Homo sapiens: one gene and its partner. The protein of the gene in region 2 interacts with the protein of the main gene of each other region in a pairwise test. Each region holds a gene or a part of one and is shown on either strand. Other genes may lie near its edges.

Region 1 (4,790 bases), on a different chromosome or scaffold from region 2:
CCATCTACTAAATAAATCAAAAACCTCCAACTCTGATAAAACCTGTGACAACAACATCAAAGGCCCAGAAGGCACTGACAAATCAAGAAGGGAAAAAAAACCTCTTTGATTTCTTTTTAAAACAATGATGGATTCTTTTCCCTGTAAAATGGGTGAAAGAAAAGTGCTATAAATTCTCATAGTGAGTGCAGTTAAGATGTGCAAAGACAGTGATTTTACATTTGGGATGTTAAGAGCTCAACTAATGAGGCCCTTCCTCCCTAGCCTGTGCAGCACCACTAAAGACCACTTCATTTTGAGTGGGTCAAGACCTCTGGAAGCACGAACCATGACTGACATGCTCTCATTTGAGCCCCGTGACCACCCTGAAGAGGCAGGGCGTTCTTTTCACAAGGGAGAAAAATGAGGCTAGGCGGCTCGCCTGGGTCAGCTGGATAAGTGGGGCAGATTCCAGTTTGTCCTGTTTCTCTGAGCCACCTCCTCCCTCCAGCCACTCTTCTTCCTGCCCATCCCCTGCAGAGAAAGGGCAGCAGAATGGGAGCAAATCACTTGGTTTAAACCCAGTTTTTGGCACACTGCCCAAGTACATAAAAAGAAGAGATACTTTTTTAAAAAGTCACTCTCTACAGGCCCCCCTGGAACTTACCATTCCAGGGAGGAAAAGCGGCAGAATGTCCAGTTTCATTGCACTGTCAAACACAGCAACTTAGGCCAGGCATGGTGGCTCATGCCTGCAATCCCAGCACTTTGGGAGGCAGAGGCAGGCAGATCACTTGAGGCCAGGAGTTCGAGACCAGCATGGCCAATATGGCAAAATCCCATCTCTACCAAAAATACACAAAAGAGCTGGGCGTGGTGGTGCACACCTGTAATTCCAGCTACTCGGGTGGCTGAGGCATGAAAATCACTTGAACCTGGGAAGCGGAGGTTGCAGTGAGCTGAGATTGCACCACTACACTCCAGCCTGGGCGACAGAGCGAGACCCTGTCTTAAAAAAATATAAAAAGATAGTAACTTAGGAAACAGCCCATTAGAGCATCTTTATTACAACCTGTAAAACCTGCACATGTACCCCTGAAACTAAAAGTTAAAAAAACAAACAGACTCTGAAAGACACATGGTTTTATACCTATTTCTTCAAAAAACCCACCCTAGGCAACTGTAAAACAGAATAAGCTGAGGAAAGAAACATTCACAAGCTCCACTCCCAGACCCACCCACATGTGATCTGCGCTGCCTAGAAGGTTCCAAGTAATCTGCAGAGACTCAAATAATGGGGATAGGAAGTGAGCAATAGCAGGAGTAAGGTTCCTCAGTCTTTTTAGGGCTGAGGTGGCATTACACATAATCAAAGCGGCCCCACAGATATTTTAAATAATCTACTTTATGACATTTTTTTTTAACTGGGTCTCACTTTACAGGCAAAGATGGGTGAGAAATGCAATTCTCCTCCAAAAGTTTTCATGCATTTTTTCTTTTCTTTTTTTTAAATTACGAGATAGAATACAACTTCCTGTCCAGAGTGTGCTCTTTCTATGGCTTTTTGCTTTTAAAGGCGCTTTCCATATTAAAGATGAATGAAAATGGTCACTATCTCTTTCCCCTTGGCTGAAGTACAAGGAACCTGAATTCCATTTGCACCACCTCCCTTACCTGCCTCCAACCCCCAACAAAGAGAACATCACAGGTGGGCTGCATGAAACAGAACGTGTAAATGCAGGTCCAAAATGACTTGGTGAATCACAGGTCTGGGGCCAGGTGTTTTCAAGCTTGCTCTCAAAGGGGATTAATAAAAAAACAACGGGGGAAGTCTAAAATATTTATCCACTTACACAACTTCAGACGATTTAAGTTCAAGGGCCGGCAGGCAGGCAGGCAGGCACCTTCCAGGCAAAGAGCTAAGGGAGACCCGGAAAGGGCAGGCTTTAGCAATTCCTCCTTTGGAAATTCAAACCTGGGGCCGCGGGCTGGGGTGTTAGCGGGGAGTGGGGGTGGTAAGGGGCTTGGCCAGTATCCTTCGTTCAAATGCAAATCCTTAGACTGAACGTACCTTCTCGGTCACCAGGATTACGGCGTGGGCCGTAAGGGCTGGAAGGCTGGTGGCCAGCGGCGAGGGGACTTTCCGGCGCGTCAAGCCCTTTATTATAAACCCAGAAGGTCGCTGTCACTCGCATTGGCCAGGAGGCCCACGGGCTCCGGGAACCAGCTGCTCAGCCGACAAACAACGCAAAGGCCCAGGGTGCCGGCGCTCCGAGCCAGCGTTCTGTGCCGGCTCCTCCCTGGGCGGCTGGTCCCCGGAGGAGGTGAATTCCGCGGGCACGCCCACGTCCCCATCGCGGCAGACAATGCGCAGGGTCCCCTCCTGCCGGCTCTCTGGACCCTCAGCTGTCACCGCGGCCCGGGCCGGGGTGGGCAGGGGACCCGGCTGGACAGCTAAGCTCGCCCCTGCCGGGGACTCCGTGGAGCGGCTGCCGGCCCCGTGCCCGCTCCCTCTGCCTCCACTTCCCCGGAATCCCAGCGTTGCCCCGGTCCGGGAACGCCCGGCATTGTCGCCGAGGGCCACTCTTCTAGATGTCGTATTTCAAAGACTTCCCTCCGCGAAAATAGCTTGAGACCGTCCCCGGCTCTCGGAAAACATCCAAACCAGCCCCCACCTCCCCCCGAAAAAAAAGAAAAGGAAGGAGAGGAGCCGAGCTCCGAGTGCGCAGGGCCCCGCGCCCGGCTCCCTGAGGGCGCCGCAGGTGCTGAGCGGCTGCGGCGCCTGAGCGCCGGCTGCCCCGCAGGTGCGGGCGGGGGGGCGGGGGGTCCCCGCCTCCCGGTCCGGCCCCGGCCCCGCGCCTCACCTGCGCCGCCGAGGCCCGCGCTCCGCAGCCCAGCCCGGCCCGGCCGCCGCGGGCGCTTCCTGCTCGCGACTTCCTGGAGCGGCGCGCGGGAGGCCCCGCCGCCCTTTCACTTTCCCTGGCCCGCGGGGCGCCGGCGGAGCCGCGCGGCTCCTCCCCCTCCCCGGCCGCCGCGACCCCCGGCTCCGGCCCCGGCCCCGGCGTGCCCAGGGTCGCACCAGCCCCGGGGCCACCGGGCGGGGGCGCCCCCACGCCTTGCGGCACTGCCCGGCCTTTGCGGGCGAACCCGGGTCATGGCCCGCGCCTTCCCCGGCTCCGAGGGCGCACGGGCTTTCGCTGGCGCGCTCCCCACCGGCCTCCGGGCAGTCCCAGGCGGCCTCTGCACCCCTGGCGCTCTGTCCTCAAGGCAGGTCTTCCCCACAGGCGGCGAGGGTCACATGCCGCCGCGCCCCCACCCCCAAAGAGGGCCTTTGCTTGGCCTCCCGGCTTCTATTCCTATTGTGTCATGTCAAGGGGCACAATCATGAAGACTAGCACTCCATAGCGTGGAAATGCGGCACGCGGATTTGGCTATGTCGAACCAACTTGTAAGCCAACTTGTGTCCCACCTCGCAGGCACGTGACAGAGGCAGCTCCCTGTTAGGCTGCGGGAGCCCGCCGGGTTCTTACCCTTGCGGGCCAGTGCCCTGGCACACAGGCTCCCACGTCACCCCAGAAACAACTCTTCTCCTTAGGCAGCCCCAGGGAGGGGCCTGGCCAGTCCCCTAGAAGCTACTGCCGAACACCCACAGTGGACCCCCAGGATGGCTTCAGAGCAGAGGGGGCTCCCAGCCCACTCCTCGGGGAAGAGCAAAGTGAGGCAGAGCGGAAATTTTCCGGGGAAAAAGCCTGCCCCCGGATAAAACAATGTTTAAGGATAAAACCAACCCGAGGCCTGGCTGTAAATGTCCCAACAGGCCAGTGCCCCTCGCACCCTTCCCCAGGCACGTTGAGCTTCCCTCTGGAGAATGGAGAAGGCATTCTTCCCTGTGTTTGGCTCCCCTGCCCTGCTAGGCCTCGCAGTTTCCCCCTGGGGCCCTGCTTTGTTTCTAGAACACTCTGATGTCTGTGTCTCTCTTTGCTGAGCTGGGCTGCGTGAAATCCATCACTTTGTTAGGCATTTGAGAAGCCTTCTGCAGGCAGAAAGAAAACCTGCCCACTTCTTTGCCACGCAGGGTTCAGCCCCAGGAAGCCCGCCGGCCCCTCATTCCGCAAGCGGGATGGCCCAGGGCTCCAGTCTTCTCCTTTTGGCCAGGTTTTCTTCAGACCTTCTTTCTCTCCGCAGGCCCCCTGTGCCAGTGCTTTCTCCTCTCTTTTCTAGCTCTCCATTCCCGGTGATAGCCCAGTGTGGCTCCCACCCCTCTCTCCAATGGTCTCCCCAGCCCTGGCCCTTGCCATTGGTTCGGCTCGAGGCTACCCCTCTCTCACTGCACTTGTGCAACAGCGTTCTCACTTCCAAGTTCTACCTCCTGCAATCCACTCTTTAAGCTGCCTCAAGTTGCCCTCCTAAAGCAAAATCTGATCTTGTCATTCCTGATTTTCAAACCTTTCGGGCATCCCATCACCTACAGGTTTTACACTTGAAAGGCGATAATACAAGCTCAGGATATATAGGACACCTCGGCCTCATATGGAGACAGCTTCTTCCCACCCCCCCTCCCCCCCACCCAGTTGTACTGACGTATAACTGACAAATAAAAATTACATAATTTGTAGTATAGGATGTGATGTTTTGATATATGAATACATTGTAAAATTATTGCCACAGTCAAGCTAGTATATCCAATCACCTCACATTATTTTTTTTTTTTTGGTGGTGAGAATATTTAAGATCTATTCTTCTTGCAAATTTCAAGTATACAATGTATTATTACTAACTATACATTAGAGCTGTACATTAGCCCTCCAGAA
Region 2 (4,087 bases):
TTCTAATAAATTTACTTACACAGATGTTCATACATATGTGAATTTAATATATTATGCATTATATATTACACCCACCACTTAACATGTTTACAGTTTCAAAACAACTAAAATTTTAGAATTCCCCCTAGAATATTTCCATTAGAATCCAGTTTAACTCCTGTAGAGAACAGATGTCATGCATGTGAGATTATCTAAGTCTCTTTTAGGATTTGATTGTTATATGTCCACTGATAAAATGTAATCTACTTTTCTTCTGGCTATTGCAGGTATATCTGACTTTGACAGGTATAAAGTGATTGTCATAATTGAAGGAAAACCAGAATAATCATCTCAGGATTACAGAACAACAAGAGACTCTTCTATTGTTAACTGTTTAAAATTTAAGGAGCCTGGGGGTGGAGAGAGATTAAAATCTCAGACCAAAAAAAAAAAAAGCATAATTTAGGGGCAGAGTTTTTAGATAGATTTGGCTGTTATTTTCAAGCATCAAGTAGGAGATTTTTTTAAAGTCAGGTAGGATTTCAGTGAAAAATATCTGGGCACTTGACAAAGTATCCAGAAGGTAGCAAGGCTGACACATCTACTTTTTGGTGCCTTCTGTTTCCAGAGTTGGTATGTGGCATTCTGAATAAGAATATTAAAATATTTCTTCCTAGGAACAAAATAACAAAATCAGCACAAACTTTTACTCAGAAAGAATAAATGATTGGGACTTAGTTCTATGTTCAGCAGCTTCTTAAAAAGGGATTAAAGCATCAAGTGGAAAGGGTCATTCATACTTTTCAGTGTATTACTGTAAATAAACTTTGCCTGCTTGTTGAATTGGGGGTAGGAAGGGATAGAGGTGGTAAATTTTAGATTTATTGAGCTGGAAGGAACCTTAGAGATTACCATTGATCTTGCAGATGAGTAAATTCAGGTATAATTAAGTCTGAATATAGAGGTAAGGAGGGGAGGCATTTATTTATTGAAATGTAAATGTTATCTGAAAGTGTTATTTAGAACTGCCACTCAGAGTTTGCTCTTAAGATGGAGAGTGAGGATCGGCATCACCTGGGTACTTAGATATGCAGGCTCTTGGGTCTCATCTCAGACCTACTGTATCAGACTCTGCAGTTAAATAAGGTTTCCAGGTGATTCGTATGCAAATTAACATTTGAGAAGCAGTGCTTTGGAAGACTTTCTGGTAAGGTTTGTGTCTGAGTCTTAAAAGATGCACCTAAGTTTCCTGTTGTAGGGTTGGTTATAGGCACTTGGAATGTCTCATGGAAAGGAACTAATGGGAGGCCTCTCAGAATAAATTAAGTCAGAGAAACTGGTGTTTGGAGAAAATCTAATCAATTGGATTTTCTCACTCTTAGCCATAGCATTCAGATTTTTTGTCATTTAGTGGAAAAGGACCTTGGACACAGGCAGCTTCAAAGCGAACTAACAGTCTAAGTATAGTGAAAAGAATCATTTTAGAGTTTGCAGTGGAAACTACTAAAAATGAGGGTACATCTTGAGCTGAAGTTCTAGATTTAGGACTGTAAGTAGGGTGGTAGGAAAATACTCGTCTAGAGCTATAATCAGAGATATTGATTGCAGTTAAGGATTTAAAAGGCAGGTAATTATTGTGTTATATCTTAGATTTCCTTCCTTGAAGTCCTTACTCTCTCTGTAACATCTTTTAAAATAGTTTGCCAACTATTTAAACCTGTCTATTTAGCTATTCTAGTTATGGATTATACTTCTGAAGATTAAGGTTTGGAAAATTCTAGTCATAAATCTAGTTGCCATAAGCAGGAAGCCATAAGAAAATTCATATAAAAAGTACGTGTCTTTGGAATTTGACCATCTGATCCACATACTCCTAATTGTGGGCTAAGAAGGAAAGTTTTTTAGTGCTGATTTAAGTAACCCTATGAAGCCCTGTTAGCCTCACTTTAAACAGAATTTATAAACTCATTCCCACTTAAAATTCACTAGAATTTTCTTATTACAGTTAGTGCTTTATTGTTAACAGAAATATTGAGATGTGATACAGAATTTTCTTTAAGAAAGAATGAGACTGAAATTTATAAGAGAGATGAATCTTTACAATTCCAAGCCTTTCTCATTTCAAGTTTCGTGAAACACTGGTGGATAGTTTTAATGAAACTAATATAAAAGAAAAAGATAACTGCATTAAATTAATAGAAACCTTATATACAACACAAAAAAGAAAAAGAGGCTTTTTTAAATGCCTAATATATTTGGGTAATCTAAGAATTTATAGAAATTAAAAACAGTTCTAGACACACTTGTTTTATAAAGGGGCTTTTCCTAGTCTAGAGACTTTCATTCTAAAATCATTTTTTAGTTAGTATTAATTTAGCTCAAAGTCAGAAAAGTTTATTTCTGTTTAGAATAACTAAATTAAAGGTTAAGTTGGTATGGTGAAATACTTTATTTCAAAACGTTTATTTTAGGAGTTTTGGTTTTAAGAATTTCTAATTACATTATTTGTTATAATGTATTCTGTCCAATATACTTCCACAAAGACTTAAGACATTGAAAATTTGAAATAATGAAGTGAAACAGTTACATACTTAAATGGAAAGAAAGAAATGTGTATCTAAGGGTCAGTCTGAGGGAAACAAGTTACTAGGTTCTTCAACTAAATTACTGTTATTCTGGGGCTCTAAATTAGACTCTTTCATTAAAATTAAGAAAGAATAATAGCATTTCTGTCAATGCCTGAAATAATTACAGACTGAATATTAAAGCAACAAAACAAGTCCTAGATGGGTCTTGTCTTATAGACAATTGTTTAATTATCTAAAGAATATCAGTAGCACAAATATTTTATTGTTTAAAATGAAGACTGCTTTAAATTCTGCCATGCATGAGGGATGGTAGGAGTTGTCATTCAGTTATATAAATTTTTATTTGTCTCCCAGACAAGGTTCAACAACTTCATAGGTATGGGCCTAGGTCTAATACCTTCCACAGAAAAGAGATCTTGCAGTCATCTGAAGGATTTGTACAAGTATAGGTTGACGCACAAGTATTCTTTTCCACTTAATATGAAATATAACTTTAACTGAAAAGAATACTGAGTTCTAACTTGTCCCTAGGGGGGAAAAAATTCTGTGATCCTCTGAACAGTTACATGGGGTTATTTAAGGTATAAATGTTGGTTCTGTATGCCAAATATGACAGTTTTGGCTGGTCAGATTTCTCATTGACATTTGAGAAAGCGGAATAATAAAGGTTAAGAGTGTGAATTCTAGAATCAGTCCTCCTGGGTTTAAATCATGTCTCTGCCACTTACTTTGTAATCTTGAACAGATTACTTATCCCTCTGCTTCTCTGTCCTCTGTAAAGTGGGGATAATAGTACCTGTTTTATAGGATTTCTTTAATAGAGTTTATATGGATGATGATTAAATACATGTGAAGTGTTTAGAACAGTTCCTGGCATAAAGAAAACACTCAATAAATGTTAGTGCTTATTACTATTGTTTAACAGAAACTAGCCAACTAACTCAACCATGAAAACACTCCTACATAGAAACAAGCCAAATCATCAGTATGAAATAAGAGTGTTTGTCTTTCTACCTGCTGTAGCAAAAGTGCATGCATCTGATTCAGCTTAAAACTTTAAGCTGTACTTTCCGGGGGTGAGGGAGGATGGGCTGAGAACAGTTAACTCTGTTTAACTTTCAATTGAATTTGTCATAAAAGTATGTTTTTTACTAACGTTGAATTTTAACTGCTGTTTATTTTATATACGGTACAGGAAAATAACCTGTATGCATTGCATGCCTGGGTTTTTTGTTGGTTTGGGTATTTTTTTGTTTGTTTTTGCTTTCTTTTGAATTAGTACAAAAACCTGAGGAGTTTTACTAGAAACCCCGTATCTTGATGAGGCAGACTTATTTTATCTGAAACCTGCTTAACCTTTGGGCAGCTTTTTAGTTTGGGAAGTCAGGTTACACTATTTGTCCGGAAAATAATTAGCATCAGTCCATAAATCTGGGACATAAAATGTTTCCCTTTGGAGGATGTAAAAGACTATTTTTAAAGGCATTCCAAGTGGGCTGTTCCTATAGTTTACAGAGGTA

The links.
Region 1: the proteins of HTR2B (region 2) and SLC37A1 interact in a two-hybrid assay, tested with the Homo sapiens proteins (one large-scale study listed by BioGRID and IntAct).

What each region holds. Positions count from the first base shown.
Region 1 is NC_000021.9:42,511,978-42,516,767, reverse strand, and holds the start of SLC37A1 (glucose-6-phosphate exchanger SLC37A1), read right to left. Parts: upstream 2,917-4,790; 5' UTR 2,051-2,916; intron 1,899-2,050; exon of another isoform or gene 1,833-1,898; intron 1-1,832. UniProt on the Homo sapiens protein: Inorganic phosphate and glucose-6-phosphate antiporter. May transport cytoplasmic glucose-6-phosphate into the lumen of the endoplasmic reticulum and translocate inorganic phosphate into the opposite direction. Independent of a lumenal glucose-6-phosphatase.
Region 2 is NC_000002.12:231,114,770-231,118,856, forward strand, and holds part of HTR2B (5-hydroxytryptamine receptor 2B), read right to left. Parts: intron 1-4,087. UniProt on the Homo sapiens protein: G-protein coupled receptor for 5-hydroxytryptamine (serotonin). Also functions as a receptor for various ergot alkaloid derivatives and psychoactive substances.